Regions from separate parts of the Homo sapiens genome. Here all the other regions are linked to region 1. The links come from fine-mapping of genetic effects on gene expression. A gene starts in region 1. Each other region holds a variant in brackets. All regions are shown on one strand. Distances are between the middles of the regions.

Region 1 (7,933 bases):
CAAACTATGACCTGAGGACCCAGAAAAAGTCTGAGAGAGTGAGTCCCTCTACTTTCAACCTTGGGAGTTATTTTCTTCAGCACAAAACTAGAGGGGGCTCACAGGTCAGATCCAGGATTCCTGGGCTCCAAGTCTGCTCCCTCATTCACCATCTTATCACCTTGGACAAGTCTCTGGGCCTCAGTTTCCCATCTGCAACTTGAGGGAAACAAACTAAGGAGGGAGACCGCATTTGTCTAACTTCAAGAGAATGAATGTGCATTGCCTTTGTTTTAAAATAGTTGGTCATATCTGATATAAAGTTGTCCAAAGGAAAGCATTACCCAACTCCCAGCCTGACATAGAGGGGGAAGCATGGGATTGGTGTGGGCGAAGGATTACCCAGGTGCCGAGGCAAGAGACTGAAGGCATAAACTGTAGCTATACTGCTATACAGTTGTAATACAAATTAGATATACAGATGATCATGGACAATTATCGATTATTAGTATAAACATTATTAATCATTAGTTTTTAATATTACTCTTTATTGTAGTACAATATAACCTAGGAATAACCGGTGGGTATAGGGTCAGGTACTGAAGGGACATTCTGAGAAGTGACCTAGAAGGCAAGAGGTGAGCCCTGTCACACCCGCATAAGGGCCGCTTGAGCGCTCCTTGGTCAAGCGGTAACGCCAGTGCCTGGGAAGGCACCCATTACTTAGCAGACCGCAAAAGGGAGTCTCCCTTTCCTTGGAGGAGTCAGGGAACACTCTGCTCCACCAGCTTCCTGTAGGAGGCTGGATATTATCCAGGCCTGCCCGCAGTCATCTGGAGGCCTAAACCCCTCCCTGTGGTGCTGTGCTTCAATGGTCACGCTCCTTGTCCACTTTCATGTTCCTCCTGTACTCCTGGTTCCTCTTTGAAGTTTGTAGTAGATAGCGGTAGAAGAAATAGCGAAAGTCTTAAAGTCTTTGATCTTTCTTATAAGTGCATAGAAGAAAATGCTGACTTATGCTGCCTTCCCTCTCTGCTTCGGCTACCTTAGAGGGAAGAGCCCCCGTCCCATGATCACATGACTTGCTTGACCTTATCAATCACTTGGATGACTCACCCTCCCTACCCTGCCCCCCTTGTCTTGTGTGCAATAAATATCAGTGTGCCCAGCCATTCGGGGCCACTACCGGTCTCTGTGTCTCAGTGGTAGCAGTGCCCCGGGCCCAGCTGTTCTCTCTTTATCTCTTTGTCTTGTGTCTTTATTTCTTACAATCTCTCGTTTCCGCACACAGGGAGAAAACCCGCTAAGCCCCGTAGGGCTGGACCTTACAGATTGGGAGGCTGACAGATGTGGGGATCAACCCCATATCTGCCTCTTACTGGCTGTGAGATCTGGAGCATGATGCTTTGCCTCTCTGGACCTCAGTTTCCTCATCTGTAGAATGGGGACAATAACTTCACAGTAGGTTTATTGTGAGAATTTAATTAATATCTGTAAATCTCTCACCACAAGAACAGACACAGGGTAGACGCTATTCATGCCACAAAGATTTAGAGAGCATCTTCTCAGTACCAGCATTACACAAAGGCTGCTGAGGCCCTGGGAACAGTGACGTGGTTCCTTCTCTCCAGAAGCAAAAGGAAACACAGGGTGTGGTGAGAGATAACCAAGGCTGGGCCGCAGCGGGGAGCTCATTCAGAGAGGGTGCTTAGGAGGTGACATTTAAGCTGAGTCCCAAAGAGTGAGAAGGGGCCAAGCATATAGAGAGCAGAAGGACGAGTATTCCAGGCAGAAGGAACAACATGTGCTAAGGCCTGAAGGCAGGAAGCTGCTCTTAGCACATCTCAGAGACTCAAAGGCAGCCAATGTGGCTGGAGAAAGCAGAGGCCAGGAGGCAGCAGCACAGCCAGACCACGGGGACTTTAACAAGGCACCCGGCAAAACCAGCTCCACACTACTACAACCCCGTTCTCAGAGGCCACCACCCCTACCTTCACAGAGAGCACCCCTGTACACCTTACTAGTCCATCAACCAGAAATGGAAGGAAGGCGTCTCCTGTGTCTTTGATGCCAACTCGGAGCCCAGGCAAAATCTGGACCAGAGTTGGGGTTCATAAGCATTCGCTGAATAAAAAAAAATGAATAAAGTGATGGCAGGATTCATTGTTATTCCACTCAAATTAGGAAAGGCTGACTGCTGACATGGGGGAAGGGAGGTTTTGCCTTGGCAACTAGTCTTGCCTGGCAAGGCAGCCATCACGGTTGGAATGTCCAATGCCTGCAGAGAAAGCTTCAGAAGAGGCTTGTTCAGCTGGAAGGCCAAAGGGCCAACTCTCCACCCCCAGCACTGTATCAGAGGACAGCGGAATGGGGCTCTCTCTTCCAGACATCTGTAGTGGCTGCCCTGCACATTCTGATGTTGAAACAGCGGGACATGGTGTCTGAAAACACCTAGCCACACTCTAACGGATATTAATTCGATTCCCCTGAGAAAGCAAGTCAGAGCTCCCTACTGGGGTGTGCCTGCCTCTCACAAATGTTTCTGTCTAATGGATTTGTGCTCCCAGGAAAGGTGAGGGAGGACACATCTGCCGAGGGCAAAGTGTTTGAGGAGGGCAGAGGGAGGGCTCTGTCTGCAGAAAGGTTGTTGGCCATCACAAGTTAAGATTTAATGTGCCTCAGATTGTGTCCTCCAGGGGATTGAGTGTCCACTTTCTGTATCCTTGCAACATCTGGTCAGCCCGGCCAGATGTGAAACCACAAGTTGACTCTTCTAGACCAAAGCACTTACCGCAGACAGGCCCACAAAAGGCCAGCCACTTGCATCCAATGACAAGCCATGGGGGAAGGAGGGAACCCCACTTTCCAAGAAGAAGCCAACTGCCAGGCCCCTCGTTTAGCAAACATTTCCTGATTCTGGGGTTCTATGGCTTACAGAGATGAATCAGGAGTTTACCTTTAAAGTTGGGAGCAGAAATCTAAGCCAAAAATATCATCAACAAATCCAAGGGAATCTGCTTTTCCAACCTAGGGAACCTCTTATTATCTATTTGCTGATAAACCCCCAGTTTTCAAATACTTCTTTCTACCAATCAGACTACACTGACTTAGTCAAAGTTTGTTTCCCTGCCCTCTTTCTTCTGATCAGTAGGGGAATGCCAGGGAGCCCACACCAGGAGCTGAAAGAATTTCAGCTATAGGCAGAGACACTTGCCATCTTAGATCTCACAACTCTAAGCCAAGAAACGCGCGTGCCCCTCTGACCTGCTACGCATACCGGGTTATCATTTCCCGGGTTCTAGGGTTAGGGGCTATCCAGCGAGATGAACCACCAGCCCTGACCTGGCCTCTTGGGCGAGAGAAACACACCGCAACCACCTCGGAGTAGGCAGCATGCCTGTGTGCTGCAGCTTCCGGTAACAGAATCCTGCTTGCTCTGCTTGTCTGGGAGAGTGACACGATTCATTTCATTTTGCATTTAATTCTCAGCAAACCTGCGGACAATGAGGCTGAAAAGTTAAACAACGTGCACAGCTAGAAAGTTACGAGGCGGGACTCGAGCCCATAGGCACTCTCACGGAACGAATCTTAAGAGAAAAATGGCACAAGCCTCCATCCCGCCCCTCATTCCACTCCATTCCACTCCACTCCACTCCACTCCACTCCACTCCACTCCACTCCCTCCCCGCGCCCGGACGCCAAAGCCCCACTGCTCACGTCGCCTCTGGTCGAGAAGACGCCGTAGGGCAGGTTGTGGATGGGGAAGTCGGAATCCTCGGCCACCGGGATGAAGGACATGCTGAAGAGCACCCGGCACGGCTGCGGGCCTAAGGTGGCGTGCGGAGAGCAGGACTGAACTCGGCCGCTGTGGTCAGGCCCGGCCCCGCCCCCCTGCCCGCCCCCACGGCCTGTCCGGGTGACACAGCAGGGACCCCGGAGGCTCCTACCTGACTTTTGGTCTCACCGTGAACACCCCGCCCCCGAACCCCGAGCCCTGCCCCTCCCCCCTACCCTGACCCCCGCCAGCTCCAGGTCCTCCACAGTCTCGCCCGCCCTTCCAGAGCCCCGCCCCGCCCCTGGCCCCGCCCCCGTGGGCCTCAGGTCCTCCAGTCTCTCCTCCCTCCCTGAGCCCCGCCCCTCCCCTTGCCCCGACCCCGCGAGCCCCAGGTCCTCCACAGTCTCACCCTCCCTCCCTGAGCCCCGCCCCTCCCCTCGCCCCGCCCCTCCCCTCGCCCCGCCTTGCAAGCCCCAGGTCATCCAGTCTCTCCCTCCCTCCCTGAGCCCCGCCCCTCCCCTGGCCCGGGTACCCGAGAGTCCCAGGCCCTCCAGTCTTGCCTCACTCCCCGAGCCCCGCCCCTCCCCTGGCCCCGCCCCCGTCCTGATCCCCGCCCTGTCCGCGAGTCCACGTGGGGGAGATCTGGTTCCAGCCCCCGCTCGGGGCAGCTAGCTGGTCCTACCGAGAGCAAACCCCAGCTTAGCATTTAAGGCTCTGCCCTGCATGACTCCAGCCTCGCTCGCCCCGGCTGCTGCCCTGCTCTTCAGCTCAACAGAACTCTTGTCCGCTTCCTGGAAACACTTTCTCCCCAAGAGCTGCTCCCTGAGCTTCAGAAGAACACCCAGTCGCGTCCTTTCTGCCTTCATACCATGATGCTCCGTCCAGCTATGACACTTCCACTTGTATGTCAGAGAAGGGGACAGTTAGGCCTGTTTGGAAGGCTTCAATTAATGAGAATTAATATTCTAAAAAATATAACTCACCTGTTTCACATGCCAGTAGTAAAATGACGTTGACAAGATGCTCAACCTTGGACAAGTTACTTAAACTTTCTCTACCTCAGCTTCCTTCTCTGTATAATGTTGATGATAATAGTTCCTACTTCACAAAGTTGATATAAGAATGGAATGAATTAATATTTGTGAAGCACCTAGAATAGTGCCTGGCATATACAGGTTATGTGTGTGTGGAAAGAGAGAGAAGGGAGGGAAAAAGAGGAAAGGAGGGGAGGGGGATAAAGGAAAGGAAAGATAAAAGAGAAATAGGAGAAGAGAGAGAGGGAGAAAGAAAAGAAGGAAGACAGGAAAGAAGGGAAAGGCAGACTATCTTAGGGTGGGTTCAAGGTGTTATCTAATCACTCATGTGCAGTCAGCTGCAGTTTTTTGAGACCATGCCACAGCCAGGACACTTGGAACACACCGGAGAGTGTGTCGTTGTGTTATTGTTGGTGTGAATGATTCAGGTACACTTTTAAACAGCCAGGATGCCGGCTGAAATCTAGAAAAGTAGACGATAGTCTGGGCAAGGGTTCCCTGAAGATCCTTGAGGAATGTGACACAGTGACTGCTGAGTTAGGGAGGCTGCTCCGCATTTCAGCTTAGGGAGAAGAGGCTGGAAGATGGCAGGATAATGTGAGCTAAGTGGGCTTGAAACCAGACGGCTTGAGAGGAGCGAGTACGGCAAGCAGGGCCCGCTGTTGAGCCCCCCTTCCTAGCCCCTGAGATCACTCTGGTGCCTGTCCACCAGGCGTGACCAGTGATCATCACCCAGTAAGGAGTGTAATCTGGGCACAGCCTCTTGGCTCTCATCTCCTGCCCTGAGTGGCTCTGCCAAGGACTGGCTTCAGTTCTTTTAAGTCAGCCCTGGGGAGGGAATGAAGGTGGTCTGATTTGTTCTGGTAGGTTCCTGAAAGAGGAAAAGAAGAGGAGAGTATCCCAACTTGGTGGCCTTATAAAGAGGCATTCCAGGGAGCACTTGATACCTGCCTAATTCAAGCTAGTCCTCAGCTGCAACGCAATGAATTATTTCCACGTTCTGTAGTTGCCCTGCCCCTTCCCATTAAAACCACGAGCTTTCTTATTCCATGTGCAACTCTGTCAATACCCAGCAAAACACCTGGCACAGAATAGGTTCTCCATAAATACATGTCATTAATATAAAACTGTTGACCAAAAGGAAATGAAGCAATAACTAATAAGCCCATGCCCTATGCCAGGCCATGGGGATACACCAGCAACTCACATCTTTAATTCCTGTTTTTATGGAGCATGTGTTGTGTGGGGGATGCTAGGCCAGGAGCTTCTACTGAATACATACAAGTTAACAAAAGCCTAAATGATAAAACCCTTGGAGAAAGAAAACCAAAGTATTTTAGGGAAAGGACATGGGGCAGATGTATGTGTAGGAAAGGGTGTGGGGATGAGATGGCTAAAGAGGGAGTAAGATTTCATAGTTTTAAAATAGACTTAACCAACCCACTAATTATACACAGTGTCTGAAAACGCCAAAGCTGTTCTCTATTTGGAAAACAGCATTTGAAATAACTTGCAAGTATACTATATTTTTTCTTTCTCATTTTTTGGAAGAGAATGTGTTGGCCACGTATATCACAACAATTATTTAAAAAGAATTTTAAAACAAAGAGATTGCCCATAATCCCACCAATGTAGTCTTCTCATTTTCATGTTTTTTTTTCATTCCATTTGTATGCACATGGCTTTTCCATCCTTATAAACTTTACATAGATGCAATTTTTCAGTCTTTCCCTACCTTATTCTCTTGAATATTTTTCCTTGAGGCCCAATAGGCTTTATTATGATCATTGTCATTAGCTAAGGAAGTCGCAATGTTTTAGATGGTAATAATAACGGTTCAATGAAGAGGTGCATGCACAGAATGTTTTCCTTTTCCTTGACAATTATCTAAGGAAGATTCCTGACTCAAAGAGTATGAACACTTTCAGGACTCGCAGTGAGTTTCAGCATCTCCAGCAATGAAGGCTGGTTTGGGTCTCTGTAGCACCATATTTAATGCCTCCCTCTGATGCTAAAAAGCAACACACTGCACTGCAGCCCTCATTCACACAAAGCATGTCCCTCACTCCTTTACAAGAGAGCTGAGAGAGAACTTTCCAGATCCAGGACACTAATGTCTTGCAACGGCTCTGAGAAGCTGGCAGTTGCCATTCAGATAAGCAAGGTGTGGACGCTGCCTGCACTGGGAAGCAGGATGGGGTGGCCTTTTTTGCAACATTCAGCACTGCTGCATGGTCGTCAAGAAAAAGAGGAAACTATGTCAAAGGCCAAGCACTTTAGCAAAGTAAGTGTCCTCTCTTTTTCAGGTCTGAGCTCAGTGATGTTTATGGTACACATTTTGTAGTGGGCATCATGGGTTTGGCATGTGTCCAGTACATTTTAGTATCAAGAATATATGTCATGTGCAAATATACATGACATTCTGTCCTCTCAAAGGAGTTCAAAATTTAGAGGATCTTGGAACTGAACGTAAGTAATTCAAGTGCAAGTGCATGTTGTAGGGTGGGGAGAAGGGGATTGGATGAAGTCCTAGGTGAACCAGCTCAACCAGGGCTAGGTTTTCTGCAATATAAATTTTCTTCTTCCTGCCCTCTTTAATTCTGTCTTTAGTCTGTTTCAGGTACTATTGTGTCTATGTTCTGATGGAATACTACCTCAAATCCATTTTGGATTTAAGCTGGATTTGCAAGACTCACAAATAACAAGCAGCACCTTAAATAAAGAACATGTCATTGCCATCTGACTTAATAATGTGTACCATATAATGAGTTCTCTGTTACCATTATCAAAGCAGGAGCCACTTTTTAGACTCTCCCTCACTGTTATTTCAACAAAATACTTCTAATTTTGTTTTGTTTTCTTATAACTAAATACATATTCAATAGTTTTCCCATCTGAATTATCCCTTTTTTCCCATCCAAATGTTCGGTGCCTTTTTGAGCTATAGCTGTGGATCCCACTCTGCTCCCAGAAATACAGAGGAATGTTGACACATAAGTTACAACCTCTGTATTCAACCTGTTTGGCACAGCTGAATAGATCATTCTCAGTGCCTCTCTCTGCAAACATTGTTTAGTTTGTCAACAATAAATCCACACTAAAATTTCCCTGTCTCTCTTTCGCTCTCTCTTTCTCTCTCTCTCTC
Region 2 (7,933 bases), 40 kb before region 1:
ACAGGGGAAACATAAAATCTCACCAGCAGCCATATTGTCTGGGGGTGATAGCAATTTAGTCCCACTCCCTCCTGCAACTTAAATCATAATGTAGCCAGTCCCGGGTAAGTGGAACACTTCCTGTAAAGCACAACTGCTAGTGCCCCCTTCTGTGGCTGGTCATGAGGCCCAGAGTGGTAACTGCAGTCTTGTTCTCCCACCACCCATTCCATAGCCCCTCTACTTTCTGGCAGTCCCTTAGCTGTTGGAGAATTTTATCTGGTGGAATGACCCAAATCTTCATCCACAGAGGATTCAAATTCTTAGTGCCGTGTCTTCAATGAGTTGCCACAGTATCCACAGATTCCTAAAGAACATGAAGAGGCCTTGAAGATCTCACCTGGAAGCTCTGTAAAATTATCAGAAAGAATAGCAGGTGCTCTAGGGCAACACTACTCAAACTATGGTCCACGGATGGACAGCATTGGCATCTCTGGGGAGCTTGTTAGAAATCTAATTTCATGCCCCCACCTCAGGCTTACAGAATGAGGACAAGGGATACAGGGAGTACCAAGTGCCCTAGCGAATCCCAGGGTTCCAAAGCTAGTACTCCTTGCCCCTATTGTGTAGCAGAAACCCCACTTTCCCTTGGATATTGGGGTTAACCATCCTGACAGTGCAGTGATCTCTTTCTCTGCCAATATTTCAACATAAGGAGCCCCAGATGGCACAAGATCATCTTCCAATTTAACAGACCCATAACTATATTCCCTGGTGGAAGCAGTTCCTCTTGGTCACTAGAGATTTCCAAACCCACAAAACCTAAGGTTTCTTGGTTAAAGGCCATGTTTGTGGGATATGCTGAGATGAATATGCTGTGGTTTGAATGTGTCCCCCAAAGTTCATATGTTGGAAACTTGATTCCCATTGCAACAGTGTTGAGATCTGGGGCCCAATGAGAGGTGATTAGGCCATGAGGGCGGAGTGAATGGATTAATGCAGTTATCTCAAGAGTGGGTTTGTTATGAAGGGGGTGTTTGGTCCTCTTTTCTCTCTTGCCCATGTGATTCCTTCCACCATGTTTATGATGCAACAAGAAGGTCCTCACCAGATGCTGGTTCCTTGATCTTGTATTTTGCAGCCTCCAAAATCGTGAGCCAAATAAATTTCTATTCATTATAAATTACCCAGTTTGTGTTGTTCTGTTTTAGCAGCACAAAATGAAAGAATGAAACACCACAAATGGCAGGGAGGGGCAGGAATGGCAAATCCATATCTGGAATATGTGTCTATTCCTACTGCCCTCTATGATGAAAGGGATTCAGTGTAATCAACCTGCTACCAAGTAAGCGGTTGGTCTGTCTCCTACCACCCATCTCTGGGAATGGTGCCATATCAGGGGCTTGGCATTGGTCTCATTCATTGGAAGGCTACATATCCAGAAGTTATGGAAACCAATGGACCTTCACAAGGGAAAGCCCATAGTGTTGATAGCCTCTATCCCTTCCACTATGGTCACTCTGTTCATGATGTCATTGAGCAAACACCAGAGTAGACAGAGGAAGAGGCTCACACCCCCAGGTTGGGTCATCTTATCCAGCTGATCGTTGAGAGTCTTTTCTGCAGTGGATGCCCTCTGATAGGCATTTAGATGGCTCTTGAATATCTTGACACCCAGGGCCCCTTCAAAGATGTCTTTTCACACATATCTGCCCAAGACTGCCTTGGACCCTCTCTTCCCATCCTGTTCAGTTGGGTCAACACTGTGATTCTCCTATTGGAGATGGTTAGGAATTCCATACAGCACTCCATTTGCAACAGATACTTCTGGCACTATTGGATCTGCTGATCTTAAGGTCCAAATGGCAGAGTAGCTTTCATCACAGTCTGGATATACCTTTTCTAGAGCCCTGTATTATTCTGGGCCCCATTCAAAACCAGCAATCTTATGATGTAACCAGTAAATCCATCAGACACACACACAAATGTTCTATATATTGCCTCAAAAATCCAGAGATCCATCAACTGCTGAGCCTCATTCTTTATGGTGGAAGACACAAGGTGAAGCAACATGTTTCTCATCTTAGTGGGGATATTCCAACAGGCCTCAGCCTGCTAGAACCCAAGAAGTTTCACCAATGTGTCAGGTCACTGAACCTCCACATGTGTTTTCTTCCCCTCTCTGGCAAGCATGTGGCAGTACAGCACTTGCTAGTCCTCATTCACCAGATCCAATTAGCATAATGTTATCAATGTAGCAGGCAATCATAAAGTTCTATGGGCTGTCAAGATGATAAGGGTCTCATATCATATGACAGAAACCAGGAGAATTGGCAGATCCCTGAGGTAATGCATTTAGGGTGTGCCGCAGTCTTGTAACAGGTGAAGGTGAACTCCTTCTGATTATCTGTATTGATTGTGATGCAATGGAAACTATTTCTAATATGACAGTTCTCAAACTTCAGTATGCATTAGAATCACCGGGACGGCTCATTCTAACACAGCTGGTAAGCCCCTAGAATTTTTAATTCAGGTGGTCTTCAGTGGAGTTCTATAAATTGTACATCAAACACATTCCAAGGTTAAGCTGCTAATCCAGACCTACCTTTTGAGAATTACTGTTCTAGTCACCAGGTACAATACCAGGTGCACACCAGGTGTCAGGGGCTGAGCGGATCTTCTCTAATAAAGATACCACATCCAGAACAACTCCTGAAATGGCATTAATTCCTGATTGTGTTTATGAAAATCTGTAGGACCCACCTGGCTTTTGCATAAGCCAGACAGGTGACTTAAATAGTGATGTGATTAGAACCACCTGTCCTGCATCTCTCAAGTCTTTGAAGGGGGCACAATTCAATTGCCCTGAAGATGCAGAATTGCTTTTGGTTTACTATTTTGTCACAAAGAGGCAGTTCCAAGGGCTTCCATGGGGCCACTTCTACAATAATAGCCCTCACTCCATGGGTCCAATTGTCACCCTTAATACCAATGACTTTATTCATCAGGATTTAAGCGGCAAATTCAAAAGGTTCAATGAAGAGGGTTTAATTTTGGGACAATTTTCAGAGGGACAGGTAAGGTAAAGAGAATCAGTAAGGGTTGATGATTAATCCAGGGTTAACAATGATAAGAAGCCATTACTGCCCCTTGCCTGGGGAGAAAACAGTGGCACCAGAATCTAGCAAAGACTGTGGTTATGTTGCCCACAGGAGCAGTAGGACATAGTGGGACACAGCCACTGCCCAAACCATGGCTCAGCAGGGAAAGAGTAAGGAGGATGATGCTCTCTGCTGCTTTATTCCTCTATATTCCAACCTCTGCCTGCACCTCCACTGGCCAATCCTAACCAGCAGCCAGAGAGCATGAGCCTGGGTGATGTTGTCCAACGAGGTCAGCCTCCAGGTGCGCAAACAGCAGGGCAGGGAAGGATGGAGAATAGATCTGGAGGGACAAAGGGAGATGAATCTGCAGAGGGCCCTGGGTGTTCTTCCTGCCAACAGACCTCAGTCAGGACCCAACCAGTGCACCCAAACCAATTTTCTAACTTTGACTATTTAGGAGGGAGGATTGGAATACCAGTTTCTCACATCCCTTGGACTTCTTATGCAATTTGGTCCACTCCCTCTCCACCCTTCTGCACCAAAGAGAGGGGCACCCTGGTTATATCCAACTATACCCTTTTTCCAAGGAAAGGAGTGTCCACTTGCCTCATCTACATAACTAAGAAGGACCCCAGAATTGAGAATACTTCAGCTGACCATACAGAGGCTGCTGGTCAACATATACCCCCAAAAAAGATTACGCTGTCCCTTAGAAGCCACCTCCATTTCACAGCAGTCATCCCATTAAGTGGGGAGATATGCGGTTTCACTTTGGAGATAGGACAGCAGCTCAAGCTTTCCACGAATATATATTAAGGGAAGAGAGACCCCAGAAAGCTAAATGACTTGATGACATTCAGGAGGCTGAAAGTTAGGCTACAAAAATAGTGCTTCAGTGACCAACCTTGGTGCACACAGGTTTTTTTTTTTTT[TC/C]CTTTTTTCTTCTCTTAGATTACCAAATACAGCACTAATATCATTTGAAAGAAGAGTTTGCTTGAGCTTATAGCTACGAAACGGGGAACTTTGTGAGTACAATGCCACACACATTTAGAAGCAACTACTGTCTAACAGGGGCTTTGGACACAAAGATGCATAGAGCACAGCCCTGCCCTTGAGAATCTTGCTTCCACAGGCCGAAATCAAAGTCCACATACCACTAGACCATAAATGGGGAGAGTGTTGTCCTAGATGCTGAAAGCTCTAGAATCCAGTTTCAGCTCTGCCACTCACTAGTTGTGTGAAATGAACAAGTCTCTGCTATTACAAAACAAATATCAGAGACCGTGTGGGGTCCAAAGATGGAGGTAAAGAAGCAATATTGCCCTTAGGCTGGGGTAAGGTATGGAGTGGGGGCTTCCTTGGAACTCATGCCACAGAGGGCCCAGCTTATAACAGATACGCACATACAAATCAATTTGTTCAAATTCATACAAGCACCTCTATCCCTCGGGCCTCAGGTTGGTGCAGCTCAACCTGTACTGCAAATATGAGTAATACTGTCCAAGCCAGGGGAGTTCTTCTTTACATCCCTGCCCTGTGTCCCCAGAATAAAAGAGACTGTGTGAATGTCACGCAGGACTGTGGCAGGTCCAACCCTGGAGGTGGACATGTCAGTGGAAGCGCTTAGGTAAGAGAAAGGAATGATTATTCAACTTGTTACACACTTCCTCCTAGCCAGAATGTAACTGATTCTTCCCCAAACAAATGACATTTCCCATTTATATCAAATATCCACTTTCTTGCTTTTTTTTTTTCTTTTTTGGCTTTTATATGATTGAAAATTGGTAAAATAGGCAACTGAACTTAATTATCATTGCCCTTGAAGAGAGTTGATGGGATGGCAATATTTGGATGAGAATTAAAGACATAAATTCATCAACTACATACCTACTTTATAAATTTTTAAAACCAAACTTTATTTCCAATCTGTGGTTCTGAAGGGACTCACAACATGTGCCCTCGTTGGCACATGGGTCTCATAACCTAAACAAAGAGTGATACTAATTCTTTACTTTGGCAACTAAGTGGACAGTGAACACTAAGACTGCAAAGTAGTTTTGTTTTTATAAAATATATTTAATAAGATTTAATTAATTTTTTTGAGCTGGGTGCAGTGACACGGGCTTGTAATTCCAGCTACTCAGATGGCTGAGGCAGGATGATCCCTTGAGCCCAGGAGTTTGAGGCCAGCCTGGGCAGCATAGTGAGACCCCATATCAAAAAACAAAACAAAAACAGATTTTATTACATTTTCAAAAAATGAATTTAGACATTTCATTTTGATTTAAAGAATTTTGAGATTAAATATTAAAGCTCTTTAATTATTTGTATCTCGCTTTTTATTATTAATAATTTTGAATATTTTCAAAGAAAACTAACTTTGAAAATGCATATGAAAAATTTAATTTTTCAATTTTTAACACAGAGTTTTGATGAAGATATTTACTTCTTGTACACTGAAGTATAATTCAATGTACTTTTTAATCTTTTATATCATCAATAAACCACACATTATATGAAAAGCTCAGGAGAGCATAATTAATGATTCTAATGAAATTAAAGAAAGAAAAATAATTGTAAAAATTAAAGTCTGATTTTAAAAATGTATAAAGTATAAAATTCATGAATTTATGTCTTTAATGCTCATCCAAACATTGCCATCCCATCGACTTTCTTCAAGTGCGGTGATAATTAAGTTTAGTTGTATATTTTACCAATTTTCAATCACATAAAAGCCATCACTTTGCAAATATGTTTGTTTTGCAATTATGAAAGCAAACATATCTAGGTAGGAGAATAGAAAGTATTTTATTTAACAGTGTATAGCTTGTTTATACCTCCTAAATACTGAGACTCCATGAGCACTCTCAGCTTAGGCCCTGCAAATGCTAGAAGTAGACCTATCAATAAGACACAATCTGCTCCCAGTGCTCTCCTAGAATTCATTCACTTACTGAATGAGTATACATCGAGCGGCTCTTACGTGCTAGGTACTGATGAACTTTCAGTAAGCAAAAGCAGACTATCCTCAAGGAGCTGAAAATCCAATGAAGGCAGATATTGATCAAATCATCATAGACAACAAAGGTCTATTTATTTCCAGGATCATGACCTTGGTGGGAATAGATGTGCCATGCTACTCCATTCCCTCTCCAAGAAAGAAATTGTCACTCCAACTTTTTGGTGTGCTGTTGGCAAACAGTCTGAAAATAAGACTGGCCTCAGCCTTATTTAGTTTTCAAGAGCAGAATTTTAAAAAACAAAAACAGGCTTGCAAGCAAGCATCCAGTCTTGGTCCCTCTCCCACGAGTTTCTTTCTGCCTCTCTGCAGGAGGAAGGAGAGCAAAATACTCCCACAGCCCTGGAAATCTTGCTGAGAGGACAGAAAGAGAGGGGATACACAGAAAACAAATTAGTACTTCAGGATACAACCCTGCCAAATTACTTTTTCTGGGGGTGTTAAAGGGAATATGCTTCCAAACTAAAGAAAGGGAGAAAATGTGAAAATAGAACCACTTTTGAGATCCATTTTGGTGTCAGGAATCTTTGAGATAATATTAATTGTGATACTTTACACCCCAAAATTGCCAGGCATGGTGTGTCATGCCTGTAATCCCAGGACTTTGGGAGGGCAAGGCAGGAAGATCACTTGAGCACAGGAGTTCAAGACCAGCCTGGGCAACATAGTGAGATCCCGTCTCTATAAAAAATCAAAAAATCACCTGGCCATGGTGGTGTGCACCTGTAGTCTCAGCTACTTGGGAGGCTGAGGTGGGAAGATCACCTGAGCCAGAGAAGTCAAGGCTGCAGTGAGCCAAGATTGTGCCACTGCACTCCAGCCTAGGTGACAGAGTGAGACCCTTTCTCAAAATTAAAAAACAAAACGAAACAAAAAAACAGAAAAAATCCTTAAAGTTCCCTTGTCCTCAAAAACATTGTCTTGGTTCAAGTCTACACTCACCCTCAGGAGAGCTCTCAATGTACAGTGTTTCAAAGGTAAACCAATGTGTGTGAGAGGCCTCAGGACAGAGAAGTCCCATGGTGGGGGCAACAAGGCTTCTCTTCCTCCAGTCCCCTCTGCAATAGGGACAGGGGCTCCCAGCCCCTGGAACCCCTAGTGCCTGCCCTGGCCCCGGGCAGTAGCGTGCCCCTGAGCCTAGCTCCCTTGCCACCCTACAATAAAACCAGCAGTGGGCCCCATCTTGCCAGAAACACCTCTGGACTGACTCCTCCTGGTCAGGTAAAGTTTCAAATGAACTCTACTCTCAGTTTCACAGTCATCCATTCATATTCCGAATGGACCACTGGTTAAAAACAGGAAGCATAAATGGAATACAAATTAATAAGGAAGATATAGTGATAACTATGGCCAACCTGCCTTGAGATGCTCATCATCCCGTCTGAAAGCTCCATTCATCTGGTCAAAATGCTTCTAGTCCTTAAAATATCACTGTCAAAAAGAGGAAATTTGACCCTGAAAGTCATTCTTGTCTATTTCATATTATTACACACAGATAGGTTTCAATAAAGTAGATCTCCAAAACTAAAGACCATTAAAGTCACTTGTCATGTGGGGCTGGCAGTGAGCATTTCTGGAGTCGGAGACAGTAAAACAAAGAGGCTCTTGTCGCTGAAGATTAAGGAAAAGTAATTGCCAAGTAAAGCCCAGGCTGGACCCAGAATTAACATCCATGAGTTTGGTTTCTTAAGTGAATCTGATGCCAGGAACGTTTCTGGCTCTTTCTGCCCTGTGTGTGTTTCAGACTCTGGGGCAGGTCCATTGGGTTTTCCCAACATCACCAAGCCCTTTAAGTGCATTAAATGCCCAACAAGGGGATAAGCGTGTGATC
Region 3 (7,933 bases), 75 kb after region 1:
ACTCTGCAGTCCTCCTGAACTGTTCTGGTTCTGGGAGCTGCTTGGTTCTTGAATCGCTTTTTGCTCAATTAAATTCCATTAAATTTGTCTAAAGTCTTTAACACTGACTTATCAGATAGGAAATACTCATATCCCCTACTTTTATCAAACAGTATGTGAGTTTCCTCCAGAAAAGGACCATTTTACAGTACTTTACAAGCTCATCTGACTGTGTAACTAGTCTGACTATCTGACTAGGCTGTATGCACACAACTCAATAAAAATTTGTTACTGAAACAATTATTTTAGGCAATCAATGTCACCTTTTCAGTGTAGGTTTTCATTTGAAAGTCTGCAAAGAATAAATTTTTTCTACAAAAAGTAAATGTATTTTTTAAATTCCTACAGCTACTGAGACTTAGTATTCATTCAGAGAAAAGATAACCTTACAGTAGTCCACCCTTATCAACTGATAAAGTTTGTGTATTTGTCCCCACTCAAATCTCATGGTGAACTGTAATCCCCAGTATCGGAGGTGGGGCCTGATGGGAGGTGACTGGATGATGGGGATGGAGGAGTTCTCATGAATAGCTTAACACCATCCCCTTGGTGCTGTCCTTGAGATAGTTTTCACAAGATCTGGCTGCTTAAAAGTGTGTGGTACCTCTCCGCACCCCACTCTCTTTAGCTCCTGGCTTTTGTCATGTGATGCACCAGCTCCCTCTTTGCTTCCGCAGTGATTGTAAGCTTCCTGAGGCATGATCACAAGCTGAGCAGATCTCTGGTGCCATGTCTCCTGCACAGCCTGAAGAACCATGAGCCAATTAAACCTCTTTTTATACTCAGTCTCACGTATTTCTGTATAGTAATGCAAGAATGACCTAACACATCCAAGATTTCATTGTCGGCTGTTTCAGTTACCTGAGATCAACCACAGCCTGAAGATACTAAGATATTTTGAGAGAAAGAGGGAGGGAGATGATATCACATAACTTTTATTACAGTATAATTATTCTATTATTGTTAATGTCTTACTATGTCTAATTTATAAAACTATGTCATAGGTATTTATGTATAGGACAAAACACAGCAAATATAGGTTTGGTACTATCCACAGTGGGTCTTCAAACATATCTCCCATGAATAAGGGGCAACTACTGTATATATAATTTTAAACAATTATCTACAAAATTTAAGAAAACTGGTTGTGTAGGCCGGGTGCAGTGGCTCATGCCTGTAACCCTAGCCCTTTGGGAGGCCGAAGTGGGTGGATCACCCGAGGTCAGGAATTCAAGACCAGCCTGGCCAACATGGTGAAACCCCGTAGCTACTAAAATACAAAAATTAGCTGGTCATGATGGTGGGTGCCTGTAATCCCAGCTACTCGGAGGCTGAGACGGGAGAACTGCTTGAACCCTGGAGATGGTGGTTGCAGTGACTGGAGATTGCACCACTGCACTCCAGCCTGGGTGGGTGAGCAAGACTCTATCTCAAAGAAAAAAAAAAGAAAGGGAAAAAAAACAGAAAAACGGTTGTGTATTCTGTTTCTCAAAGCTAAGGGCCAGGCGTGGTGGCTCATGCCTGTAATCCAGCATTTTGGGAGGCCGAGGCAGGTGGATCACAAGGTCAGGAGATCGAGACCATCCTGGCTACGGTGAAACCCCGACTCTACTAAAAATACAAAAAATTAGCTAGCTGGGCGTGGTGGCGGGCGCCTGTAGTCCCAGCTACTCGGGGAGGCTAAGGCAGGAGGATGGCATGAACCTGGGAGGCAGAGCTTGCAGTGAGCCAAGTTTGCGCCACTGCACTCCAGCCTGGGCGACACAGCGAGACTCCATTTCAAAAAAAAAAAAAAAAAAGCTAAGGAAAACATTCTTTTCAAATTATATATCACATAAATCTATTATAACATTCAAAATCTATTGTCATTATTTTACATTTTTATTATTTAATGTATACCAAAAGAACAGCAAAAGAAAGAACAGAGTAGGCCGGGTGCGGTGGCTCACGCCTGTAATCCCAGCACTTTGGGAGGCCGAGGTGGGCGGATCATGAGGTCAGGAGATCGAGACCATCCTGGCTAACACGGTGAAACCCCGTCTCTACTAAAAATCCAAAAAATTAGCCAAGCGTGGTGGCGGGTGCCTGTGGTCCCAGCTACTTGGGAGGCTGAGGCAGGAGAATGGCGTGAACCCAGGAGGCGGAGCTTGCAGTGAGCCGAGATCGCGCCACTGCACTCCAGCCTGGGCGACAGAGCGAGACTCCGTCTCCAAAAAAAAAGGAAAGAAAGAACAGAGTAAACAGATAATCTACAGAATAGGAGAAAATACTCACAAACTGCACCTCTGACAAAGGTCTAATATCCAGAATTCAACAAGCAAGAAACAAATAATCCCATTAAAAAACGAGCAAAAGAACACATACTTCTCAAAAGAAGACACACTCTGGGGACTGTTGTGGGGTGGCGGGAGGGGGGAGGGATAGCATTAGGAGATATACCTAATGCTAAATGACAAATTAATGGGTGCAGCACACCAGCATGGCACATGTATACATATGTAACTAACCCGCACACTGTGCACATGTACCCTAAAACTTAAAGTATAATAATAATAAAATAAAATAATTGAGCAAATGAAAAAAAAAAGAAGACATAAATACAGCCAACAAATACATGAAAAAATGCTCAACATTACCATCACTAATCATTAGAGAAATGCAAATCAAAATCAAAATATCATCTCAAGCCAGTCAGAATGGCTATTATTAAAAAGTCAAAAAAATGACAGATGTTGGTGAAGTTTCCCAGAAAATGGAATGCTTATACACTGTTGGTGTTAATGTCAATTAGTCCAGCCACTGTGGAAAACAATTTGGAGATTTCCCAAAGAACTTAAAACACAACTACCATTAGACCCAGCAATCCCATTACTGGGTATATACTCAAAAGAAAATAAATCATTTTACCAAAAAGACACATGCACTCGTTTATGTTCATCACAGCACTATTCACAAGAGCAAAGACATAGAATTAACCTAGGTGCCCATCAACAGTGGACTACATAAAGAAAATGTGGTACATATACATTATGGGATACTGTGCAGCCATAAAAAAGAACAAAATCATGTTCTTTGTAGCAACATGGATGGGGCTGGAGGCCATTATCCTAAGTGAATTAATGCAGGACAGAAAACCAAATACCACGTTGTCACTTATAAATGGGAACTAAGCACTGAGTACACAAGGACATAAAGATGAGAACAATAAACACTGGAGACAATTAGAGGAAAGGGCTGGGGAGAGGCGAGTGTTGAAAAACTATTAACACCTATCAGGTACTATGGTCACTGAGTGACGGGATTGTTTGTACATCAAACCACAGTGACATGCAATTTACCCATGTAACAAACCTACACATGTACCCCTGAACCTAAAATAAAAGTTGAAAAAATAAAATATAGCAAAAGACTATTATGGATAGTAAATAATGCCACATTAAAAGTTTTGAAAGCCGGGCGCGGTGGCTCACACCTGTAATCCCAGCACTTTGGGAGGCCGAGGCGGGTGGATCACAAGGGTCAGGAGTTCGAGACCAGCCTGGCCAATATGGTGAAACCCCATCTCTACTAAAAATACAAAAATTAGCCGGGCGTGGTGGCAGACACCTGTAGTCCCAGCTCCTTGGGAGGCTGAGACAGGAGAATCGCTTGAACCAGGGAGGTGGAGGTTGCAGTGAACTGAGATCACGCCACTGTGCTCCAGCCTGGGTGACAGAG[C/T]GAGACTCTGTCTCCAAAAAAAAAAAAAAAAAAAGAAAGAAAACTCACTCCTATTCTTACAATGGGTAATTCATGGATTTTTACTATGCTTATAATTACCTTTAATTCCCAACTATAGTTAATAATTTGATCCCTTCAAAGAAACAAACATTGGTAATATTTACCTGTATTTCAAAAGTTTCATCAATTTGACCTTTTTCCTTTACCACCAAGTTGCTTTCAAAGCTATGAATAAAAAGGCTACTTTTTCTTTTTTTGGTCCAATAGAGGTCCTTTTGCTTTAAAATATGTTAGAGGGGGAATGGCACAGAGGACAAAGAGAAAATATTTTAAATGAAAATGATTCCAAATCAACTATTTTTCTGTTCACGTCAATTTTATTTGTAAGTAATGTTGTCTGCATTATTTAACTTTTTTGATGATAGAATATTTGATGCAAAATAATCTATGTAGCCTCTCTACCCTATGTATAAGTTACTCAGTAAGTTATTTGACTTTTGTTCACAGGCAGGTGCTTTATACACCCGGATGCAGAATGAGCACAAGGTCCAAGCCAACAGTTATTTAAGGAGTTGTTAGCATTTCAAATAGCTTAAAGTGCTTTTGCACTTTGCCTAATCTTCCCACTACACAGCTTGGTCTCAAGCTTTTATTAAACGTGAGGAATTCAACAGCTATGAAACTCAAAACTATGTGCATAAGGAAAACTACCTTTACTTTGCCTGTGCCTCATTCTTTTATCTTCTTGTATCCTGGGGATGCTAAAATGTTTAATATCCTTTATCAAAGTGTTCCAAAAAACTGTCAGAAATACTTTTTTTTTTTAATGTTTGTTTCCCTTAAAGCATTTTTAGACAGGCAGCAAGTTTTCACTATGCCTTAGAAGAAGGAATTACAAATAGCTGGTGGTTAAAGAGTGAAGTGGAATGATGTGAGGGAAAAAAGGAATAGAGAAGTAAGCTCAGGAAAGCACACAGCTCAGTGTGTAAAGGAAAGGACTTCCAGTCTGACAAACCTCAGTTTTAAAGTATGCTAGTCACTTACCAGCCAAGGAGACCTTAGACAAATTAGCTAGCCTTTCTAAATTGACTTACTGGTTCGAAAAGACTAACAGTACTTAGCGTGGGGACCATCTGAGAGAATGTTTAGCACAGAATCAGCTGGTGTTATTCTTCACTCTAGCTAGTATTCACTAACGAATATGAAGCAGAGAAAAACAGATATGACCGCACAGTAAAGAATGTATTATACAGAGCCTAAAATGGAAATGAAGATCAATTAGGGGGGTGTTTAGTCATCTAAGAAATCATACCGTGTGGCCTTATGCTAACACGTGAAGGAAAAAAAAAAAGATTGATTCTAGAGACACTGAATTTAAAATTTATAGGCTAATTGTGGCTAACTGGTGATGAAGAAGAATCAGAATGACAATCAGATTCTGGCTTGGGTGGCAGTATCACCCATTTGCTGTGACTTTTGGTGAGCTGGATAAATATGGGTCTCAGGTACAAAAAAAGTTTTGGATTTTAGATTCAGACGTTGGAACCATTAATATGTATAGTATGCTAATTAAAGATATGGGACTGGAGATTATCAAAAGGGAAGTCTAGAGAAGAGTTAAGAACAAAATGCTACGAACTTCTATTACTTAATGGTTGTAAAGGAGAAACATTTGCAAAAGACACAGAGATCACTAATGAGGAAAGCACAGACAGTATCATGAAAATAATGAGAAGAGTTTCAAGCAGGAAAAGTAGTCAATGGCACTAAATGTTGCTGAGAAATCTAGTACTTACAAAAATCTATTGGTAGCAGATGACACAGGGTATTTATATTGCGAAGGGGAAAAAAGGTATAAACAGGGATAGATGGATCTGCTCTCTTCTACCAAAGCACTACTAACGACAAAACTGTTTCGAGTTCATTTTCTCCGATGGCATACAAACACAGAAAACCAAATTTAGTCAAACAAGTTCATAGACACATCAGTTCAAAAATTAGCATTAATAGGTTTAAACAAAAATGGCTCTAGGTTCTTTCAAGTTTTATCAACTTACTGCCCATTAAGTTTTTTCCTCATATTATTTGGAGGGAAAAAAATCACTATGTTCCTCTTGAATGGCATCTAACAACAGAGACTTTGAATACATTATTTTTGAAATAAAACGCAACCATCACTTTTCATATCTTGACCCAAATACCTAGGTCAATTTAAAAGTTTTCTTCTCCTTGTAGAAAACTACTTTCCACTCTCCCTAGGAAACCAAAAAGATACTCCCTAAATCTGTCAATGTAAGATCAGTAGTACTGCAGAATTACAGTTACAGAAACCACTAAAAAAAATCACTTCTTTACCTTGGGGTACCCAGCAAAATGTAATCAACAGCTAAACTTTCACTACAGTATTTACAATTACCTTTATCTCTATTTGGTAGCAATAACATTAAATTTTATTAAGACGACAATCAAATTACATGTTGTCAAATTACCAATATTTGTGATAGAAATATGGAAAATTTTTAATTTTAAATTTCTCTCTTCTATCCCAAATGTTCAACACCAAAGTATCTGAAAAAAAATCAAACAATAAAAGTAGACATTAACAAAAAAAACTTCCCTCTGAAACAAACACAATGACAAACATACCAGCATCAGCTCTGAAAGTCAGAGATACTAAATTATCAGTTAATTGAAATAAAAGTTGACACAAAGTAAGTTAAATTATTTAAATTGCAAAATGAGCTAGACTAACTCCATACCATACATGCTCAACTACTGGTTCCATCAATGAGTTATAGCCCAGCCTATGGCTTATCATTACTCCCCATTTGTAAGAAAAAATATGATTGTCTTAGAATTGTCTTTGATTTTAACACAACTTAAGTTTATTCTAGAACGTTACTCAACTAGTTTATAAGCCAGTTATGCCTATTTCATTTAACAGACAAGCTAGTAAAAGTATACATAATTTGTGGTCAATGCCAACAAAGCATGCTCTTAAAGACAAACAGAAACAACATATGTCTAGCACCACTATATGTGTGTAAAGTTAAGTTCTTACCTTTAACTGAAACCTATAAAATACTGGAAAGATGCTGATATACCATTTCAAAGCCTGTAATTATTCATAAAAGTTATCTGTTTCCAAAGTGTATTTTTAAAAACTCAAAATTAAGAAACGCACAAATAATGACAAAGGTTATTCATACATGTTTTTGAGACAGGTAAAGTTAACTGGCACTACTCCAGTCTCCTAATGTTAACTGGCACTACTCCAGTCTCCTCCTAAAAATGTTTCTGATATATTTTCTTGAAAGAAAATATTTCTTCTGGTATGTGCTTACCAGAAGAAAAAGAAAAGCCAGCCTGAATAACAAAGCCAGTGTAAAACATTAAGCCCCATACTTACTAATAGCAACACATACACTAAGTATATAAAATATCTAGCATAGATACAATTGCTCAGTTAAGTGGGTAAAAGTGTTTCCAATTTCCCTCAGCTGATTTTAATATCCAGAAAAATTGCTTTATATCCATCTACATCTTGGAAAGTGGTGTTGAAAATAGGCTTTTAGGCAAAAACTAATCAACAAGTCAGAGAGCTCCATAGGCACACTTTAACAGAACATTTAAGGGGCTACACATCAGAAAAACTTTGAAGCATATTCTGCTGGTGTCGATATAAACTGGTATAACTTTTTAGAAAAACAATTTGGCCAGTGAAGTGTTCATTATCCTTTGATCTAGGTAAAGCCACTCCAGGATTTTTCCAAAAGAAATCTTTTTTAAAAAGGAAAATATTTTACAGCTACACACAGGTGTGTTCAACGCAATACTATTAAAAATGACGAAAAATTAGAACCTAAAAGTAGACAATTCAAAAAACTAGGTTAATTCAGGTCACATCAATTTAAGAGAATTACATAGTTACTGAAATGAAAACAATTTCAACAGATAGTTAAGTGAAAACATAAAACTGCACAGATTCATAATTATTGGAAAACTGCAAGAATATAAGACAGAGAAGGGAACAGGAAAAAAATGAGATGACCAAACAATGATCTGCTGGTGGGTAGATAGGTAACTTTTCTTGATTTCATTATTATTACACTATTGTTTAAACAACAGATATAGCAGAAAAGCATTAATTTAAAAACCTTTGCATGATCCGGAACAA
Region 4 (7,933 bases), 30 kb after region 1:
TTATCTATAATTTCTTTGGCTGCTTGTGGTTAAGGTGTCATATCTAAGAAACCACTGCCTAAACCAAGATCACAAAAATGTATACCTGCTTTAAGAGTTTTATAGTTCTCTTATATTCGTTTTAGGTCTTTGATGTATTTCGGGTGAATTTTTGCATATGGTATGACATAGGAGTCCAATTCATTCTTTCGAATGTGGATATGAAGTTGTTCCTGCATCATTTGTTTAAAAGATTACTCTTTTCCCATCAAATGATTTTGGCACCATTGTTGAAAGTCAATGGCCCATAAATATAATAAGAGTTTATTTCTGGACTCTCAATTTTTTATTCCACTTACCTTCATGACTATCCTCATGCCGGTACAACACAGTCTTGATTACTGTAGCTTGTACTCAATTTTGAAGCCAGGAATTGTTAGTCCTCCAACTTTGTTATTTTTCAAGATACCTTTGGCTATTCTCACTCATTCTTTAGAATCAGAAGAAATGCCTGATTTTTAAAACCCATACAGCTTTCCTAAATCAGTCCAAAGAGACTGTCCCCCTCTGATTTTTCTGAACCAATGATTTGACAATTCAACTTTGTATAAAGTCAGAAACCCTCAGAGTAGGAAAGAGCCTGAGAATTCTAGTTCATCCTGTCACTAAGCACAGCATTCCTCTCTCTATATGGTCTCTAACATCAACTCATCTTTCCTAGAATGCTTCAGTGATGTAGACCTTACCATCTTAACATATGACATCATTCGAGTGTTGGAAAGCTTCAAAATTCTCTCTTACTCTAGGCCTCCTACAACTCCCAAATCACTTGGGCAATATAAAGAATATCTTCTGCAGCTTACAAAGCTCATCCAACCTCCATTATCTCAGTATCTTTTAATACCCTGTAAGAGGGACATTCTTATTCTCTTTTAAGAGTAATGAAAGTAAGGCTCAGTGAAGTTAAGCAGGCATACCAAGATAGGAAAATAGAACTTATGAATCCAAATTCAGTATTTTTCTACTATGACCCAAGATCTGAGGGACTAAGAGGTTGACCAAATTTAAGCATATTCTTCAACAGTTTTAGAGTGTACCAAAATGCTTAAAGTAGTTCTTTTAAAAGCTAGCATTTGTGAACTGGAAATTTGACTTATACTCCTGAGTGACACTATGTAAGTAAGGTACTGCTATATTTTTAAATCAAAAAGAACAACTAAGAAACATGCTTCAATATGCTAAATTCTCAATGAAACATAAAAATTCTTCAGAGCCATGTGGCCAATATGAAAGCAGTACCACCAACCTGGTGGCAGCATATCCTAATTATAAGCAGAATACATGTAGAGAAAAAGTTGTTCTGAATGTTCCAATTACAAAATGTTACAAACTTCTGGCTTAGACATATAGCTGCTACTCATATACCTTCTTCCATTTGGGATGGTTTTCCTATCTATATAAATTTCCCTTGAGGGAAGCATATGGAGTGAGGAAGAAGAAAACTGATACCTGGGTAGTTTGCTAAACGAGTTGATCCTACCCTGAGAACTGAGGGAGATGTATGTGTTAACAGGAATACACATATCCACATCCTAGTCCAACAAGCTCCACAACTGTCTAATCATAAGAATACTGGCCTCTATGAGTTAGGTCCCTGGATTCCAGTTCCAGCTTTTATGACCATATGACTGACTCAAAGAGACTTTTTCTGTCTCTTTTCATCCATCTATTAAATAAATGGAAAAAAAGTTATTTGAATTTGATCAATAGGGAAATCGTAATTGCATGTAAGTGTATGAGTGTGTGCACATACAGAATATACACGTACATATATACAAACATACATGTTTATATTTGTGTATGTTTATAATAAAAAGGGTATTCTTAATTCAATAATATGTTAAATTTTTTTTAAAAACTAGGTTGTTAAGAGATTTTACATACTGGAACCTAACCCTCCTCTCTTAAAACTGAGATGAAACTTATACCTAATTTATCAAAGATTTGCTGCTGATATTACGAATGCTAAGTTTTTTAAAGGTACTTACAAGTTAATACTGGTTTAACCTAAAAGTCATTCAAATCATGTATGAAAAATGGGGCCTATACAATTTCTCCTAATATGGCATCAGGACCACCTTTTGAAGTGATATACTCAGGGCTAAGTGGAGAAAACGGTATTGTTTTCCATACACCACAAATGGAAATAAAAACACTTTTATAAATAAATGGTATAAAAACACTTCCTATGTGTTATGATAGTTCACCAATCTATGACCTTTATTCTTTGTCAAACTTCTGTAAATACTATTGTATTCTTAAGCTTTATACATTTTTTTCACTGCCAACATTCTAAATTTTTTTTTTTTTTGAGACGGAGTCTCGCTCTGTTGCCCAGGCTGGAGTGCAGTGGCGCCATCTCGGCTCACCGCAAGCTCCGCCTCCCAGGTTCATGCCATTCTCCTGCCTCAGCCTCCCCAGTAGCTAGGACTACAGATGCCCGCCACCACGCCCAGCTAATTTTTTGTATTTTTAGTAGAGACAGGGTTTCACCGTGTTAGCCAGGATGGTCTCGATCTCCTGACCTCGTGATCCACCCGCTTCAGCCTCCCAAAGTGCTGGGATTACAGGCGTGAGCCACCGCGCCCAGTCTTTTCCTTATTTCTTTAAAGATTCCTCATTTCTGCCCTTCCTTAAATTTTTTGATGTAACTAAGAAATAAGAATTATTCACTTAAAACATTTAAGAATTTATCACAATATGCTAGATGGGACTAGAATATTTACGTTGACCACACAGAATATTCTTTTGTTACGGCAAAATCTACACAAACAAGCAAACTGGTTCAAGTATTTGCTGGGTATGAAAAAAAAGCAAGAGGAACTACCTAGCTTATTTAAATTTGTTTATTTAATTCTTGAGACCGGGTGTGGGGGAATTGCTCTGGTGCCCACCCAGGCTGGAGTGCAGTGGCACGATCATAGCTCACCGCAGCCTGAATTCCTGGGCTCAAGCAATCCTCCCACGTCAGCTTCCTGAGTAGTTGTGACTACAGGTATGTGCCGCCTCACCTGGCTAATTTTTTGTTGTCCAGGCTAGTCTCAAACTCCCAGACTCAAGCGATCCTCCTGCCTTAGCCTCTCAAGTAGGTAGGGATTATAGGCACAAGCCACAGTGCCTGGCCTAAATTAAAAATTTAGCCATCTTAAACTAGGATTGGCAGATGTATCTGTTACCATCATGTGAACACCATGTGCAATGAAGTTTCACTGGTAAATCATCTCACAGGCAGAATGACACACTGCTCTTCATTAGGCTTATCTTTCCAGAGATCCTTCCTTGTTACCATGTTATTTCCACACACTGCTAGAATACAACTAATTAAGCAGAGATTATTTAATAGCCTCCAAAATGGCCTACTCCGCATTCTCTCTCCCTACTACGAAAGCCTTCATACAAATTTTCAAGTCTTCCTAGATCACTTTGAGCTTCATAATGGGGATATGAAGAGCATGGGCAAGACACGATAGATACCATGCTGTGAATACGAGCAACTGAATGTGACTATTGCACACATGGGGAAGAAAAAAGGAGAACTGCCAGGCACGATGGACACAGTCTCTCAGATAATGAGTCAAAACACAAAAGAAAGAGATGCCCCTCAAACCAGCAGCCCCAGTTTTCTTACAGAGTAGTATATAGACTGAAACGGCCAAAA[T/C]AGTAAAAGAGAACAGTGTAACACTGCCACACATTCATTTAATTATATTTTCCAAACTAAACAAATTTTGAATTTGCAACATTTATGCTGATGATAAAATTACATGTAAGTGTGAAATGGCTCCCCAACATGTTAATTAAATACTTAAAGATATAAAGTATTGTGTTCATAGGGAAAACAGAAAAACATGTATTTTAAGCTGGCAATTTTTTTATACATGCACCTAGGATAGTGTCTGGCCTATAATACTCAAATAACAAAATACATGCTAGTTCATATACAAACCCTGCACATCTTCTGTTTCAGGTACTGCTTTGTCCACAGATGTACTGTCCAATTGAGAAGATGCTACAGATTCTGATAAAAGTGACTGATTTGATACAGGGCTAGAAAAGCAAAATATTTCATTTTAAAAGGTGATCTCTACACATGAATATTAACTAATGTGACACAGTAAGAGTTCAACATATCTAAGTAGATAATTAAGATGAGAACACAGACATACTTTTTTTTAATAACTTAAACATAATCATAGAGCTTTAAAACTAGAGACTAATTTGGACCAGAATTTTACTGCCTTGGAAACAAAGCAACAGTGTATATGTCCTTTGTGTATTTCAAGTACCACATGAATTCACTAAATGAAAACTAGCATGATAAAGACATGCTTAAAGAACCCTAAGACAAAGCTGTAAATGATATTCTGGCATAGCAAAACTGAACATATCTTATCATGAACTGGAAAAAAGGAACCCCAGTGTAGGAACTTAATATATTGGTTCCTAAAAGCAGAATAAAAATGAAACCAGTATTGCTGTATGCAGGCTTCTAAATGATGTGACTTCAGAGTTAAAAAATATATATATACACATTACAATATAAACAAATATGAGTACTACATCATGATATTAAACAAAGATAATGTGTGACAAGACTGTATTTTTTTAATACACGGTAGTAATACTTGCAGAATAAGACTAACATTTCACTTAACATGCTTCCAAAGGACTTCAGGAGTAGGTCAGGATATATTATGAGAAAGAAAAAGATGCCTGAAAAAGAAATCTAAGACTTAAACGATAACCCCCGATCCCTCAAGGTAAAAGCAAGAAATCGCTTTTTCTAACTAGTTATAATCAGACGATAAAATTTTAGGCCAGTTAATCTAAAAGTAGCTTTACGTAGTTTTCCTTATTAATCAAACACAGAATATACTCTTTAGTTTTTATTAGCATTCTCATTAGAATTCAGAGAGTACATCTTACCTGGGCTGCATAGATGAAGATGTAGAGTCTAATGCTGACTGGGCTTCTGGCACACTGCCATCTGTGCATTGAACTGGTAAAGATTCAGACAGACTACTGACAGAGGTTGCTGTAACAGTACCACATTGCGTATTAGTGATTCTATATGCTCAGCAGTCTAAGACCTTATCTAAAAAAATCAAAATCCATTTTCCACAGAACACAGTATAGAGGTTTTCTTTTAATATGTAGTATGTTGGTTCATTATTTTTAAAAAATTTTTCAACGGTTTGCCAGTGAAAAATATGTTAATTTTAAACCAAGAAGGAAACCATCTGCAAATTGTATACATTAATAAACTCCTATTTCTTAGGACTGAATAGCACCCAAGCCCAAATGCTTTAATTCAAAAACATCTTCCAAGTACTAGAGAACAAATGAGATATTTAAATAAGATGACATAGCAGTGAAGAATATAGGTTCAGAATTAAAATCTATGCTCAGTACATTAGGTTATAAATGTAGATGATGACTTAATTTTAAAACAATTTATACTCATTTGATCTTAGCCTTAAGCAAATTTGGAGTTTTGGTTAAATGGTTGTAGGTTTTGGCTTGAACAAAAACAGACAAGATCTCACACACAATATTAAATGAACTAAGTAATAGCCTACACTTTCATTAACCACAAAAATCTATACATGCAGGCATTAACCTACATGAGATCTATCCTAAATGAATACACTAAACACTTTCCTTTTTGCAAAGCTTATACTTGGAATCCGCATGATCCTTCTTATACAACTACTGAAACAAAAGACCACCTCAATTCCAAGAATATCCTTTGACACAAAAAGGCATAAAAAACCCTAGTGAACTGGGGTTGAACATCCCTTACTATGAGTTAATCCACGATACTCCTCCTTCCTAATGGAGTAAAGCTTCCTCTCAAGTCCACTGAGCTGTGGTTATCAATAATCCACTCCTTCCTTCAACAACTACTTGAGCTGTAAGTCACACCAGATAAAAGAACAAAGGTTCTTTTATCACTCTCTTCCCTTACTTTCCAAGACACTTGAGGTGTCCCCTCTAAATAAAGTAACAGAATTCCACAGCCACAGAAATAAGATTATGGTATGAATTTACAGTATTTTCAATGAGTGATGATACTCATTCCTAACTCCTCACTACTGATTATAATCACAATGTGTAATGAGAAATTTTACTGATATGAATATGGTAATATAAATATAATGTGAGAGCAGAAAAAGGTATTGGGTATACCGAAATATCCACTTGTATTTCAATTATGAATATAGACGGGTTTCACTAGAATTACTTACCAGGTGGGCTTATTCTACCATTACTACTATTCTGTCTTTGAAGATGTTCTTTATAGCATACTGAACACATGCCATTTGTACGAGGGTTTCCATAAAATCCACAGCCAGTGGAACAAAGCATAGGCACTTGGCTGTGATTAGTTTCTTGAGCCATGTTCCTCAGTTGCACACCTGAAAATTACATAAAATTAGCAAAGAACTCAGACACGTAACTTCCAATCACACATTATCCAAAACTGCTTTTATATGATAAAGAAAAAAGCCCACATATATCAAACTATTCTACATAACTGTCCCAAGACATAGGGCTAAAAAGGAGAGAAAAATATAAAAACCAAAAGGACACACATTGAACTTTTTATCTCCAACCCACTCTACATAAGCCAAGTCTGTACAGGCTCAGAAAGTATAAAGAACTCCTAGAGAAAGAAATCTGTTTTGAAGACTCTACCCCCAGAAGGTCAAGGATAACTTATTAAGTCTAGCTCAGTTTGGACCCTCCTAGTAATAAGAGATATACATTATAAGTTTTGATGTATGTTATATTATCTAATATCTAAGCATTTAAACTTTTGCTGGAAGTTCATGTGCTAATGTGTGTTATTTATTCTGTTTCAAAAGCATTTCACATAGTATCATTTCTGGTGAAGATATGGAGAACTGGGCTGAATGCTTGTAAAATGATAATAAATTGGTTCAATCTTTTTGGAAAGCAAGTTAGCAATTCACTTCAAGAACCCTGTAAAAAACAAATATTGCTATCTGAACCAGTCATTCCCCTTTAAGGGTCTTCAACAAAATGACTAGAGTATAATCAGAAAAAGAATAATAAAATATAAGGGATGTGCTTCACAGCGTTATTTATAATTTTTATAAACAGACAATAACATTAGAATGTATGCAGTTTTTTTTTAAAAAAGCATGATATATAAATGACAAAAGTTATGCAGTCATTAAAAATATTTTAGAATATTTTTTGATTGAGGGAAATACCGATAATAAATGAAAAGGCACAATATGAAATGCGTATACTATATTTTGCCAATTAGGAAAAAAGGAGCACCCATTAATCATCAAAAAGGACAGTAATGAGCATATCCCAGGATGGTGAAGCTAGTGTTTTTCCCTGATTTGTACCTTTACTTTTTAAATTTTCTAAAATGAAGATATTACTTGCATAATTGGTGGAAATTTTTATTTTTTTAAGTATTTATAACTAAAAAATACTAAAAACTAACAGGACAGAGGCATTAGTCAGACAGGCAAGTGATGCTGGGACTGAGGGAATTGTTTGGGAACCACATGAAAGCAATAATCAATTACAGCAGATGGAAGAACCCCATGTGCCATTTCTCCCATAAAGCAACTGGTTCTTTGGCATGAATAACATGACAGAAGTACTAACGGGCTCTCTTTCTTATTAAAAAACAACAATCTCCTAAGTGAAGGTTACTCCGAAATGGGTGTATATGTATTACAGATGAGTCTATTTCAAAGATCATGAAGAATGAGACTAACCAAAGAAGGAAAATGTTTTGCCACTGAAATTTCCTTGAACTGGTAAACACCCAAGAAAAGCATTCACAGTTTACTGTCACCAACTAGATTTCTCTTCCTCTACATTATCTGAAGACTGTTGATGGGTAGTG

Evidence for each region. PIP is the estimated chance that this variant, and not a neighbour inherited with it, causes the effect. A credible set is the group of variants that fine-mapping cannot tell apart.
Region 2: its variant is the best candidate, but not a certain one, in a credible set for the expression of FAH in iPS cells (HipSci, PIP 0.66).
Region 3: its variant is the best candidate, but not a certain one, in a credible set for the expression of FAH in whole blood (TOPMed, PIP 0.60).
Region 4: its variant is the best candidate, but not a certain one, in a credible set for the expression of FAH in whole blood (INTERVAL, PIP 0.89).

What each region holds. Positions count from the first base shown.
Region 1 is chr15:80,148,899-80,156,831 of GRCh38, reverse strand. FAH (fumarylacetoacetate hydrolase) reads right to left here and starts at 3,833. Exons shown (of 14, transcript NM_000137.4): 1 at 3,697-3,833. The coding sequence starts at 3,777. RefSeq lists a silencer at 3,845-4,404.
Region 2 is chr15:80,188,713-80,196,645 of GRCh38, reverse strand. It overlaps CTXND1 (cortexin domain containing 1), which reads left to right. Exons shown (of 3, transcript NM_001352888.2): 3 at 1-1,165. Among named protein-coding and RNA genes, the nearest start is that of FAH, 40 kb to the right of the region's middle. RefSeq lists an enhancer at 7,144-7,313. The variant TC/C (reference allele first, on the strand shown) is at 4,016.
Region 3 is chr15:80,073,555-80,081,487 of GRCh38, reverse strand. All of the region lies in intron 1 of ZFAND6 (zinc finger AN1-type containing 6), which reads right to left. Among named protein-coding and RNA genes, the nearest start is that of ZFAND6, 18 kb to the right of the region's middle. The variant C/T (reference allele first, on the strand shown) is at 3,757.
Region 4 is chr15:80,118,850-80,126,782 of GRCh38, reverse strand. ZFAND6 (zinc finger AN1-type containing 6) reads right to left here. Exons shown (of 7, transcript NM_019006.4): 3 at 6,285-6,455; 4 at 4,963-5,071; 5 at 3,983-4,083. The coding sequence starts at 6,438. Among named protein-coding and RNA genes, the nearest start is that of FAH, 30 kb to the left of the region's middle. The variant T/C (reference allele first, on the strand shown) is at 3,698.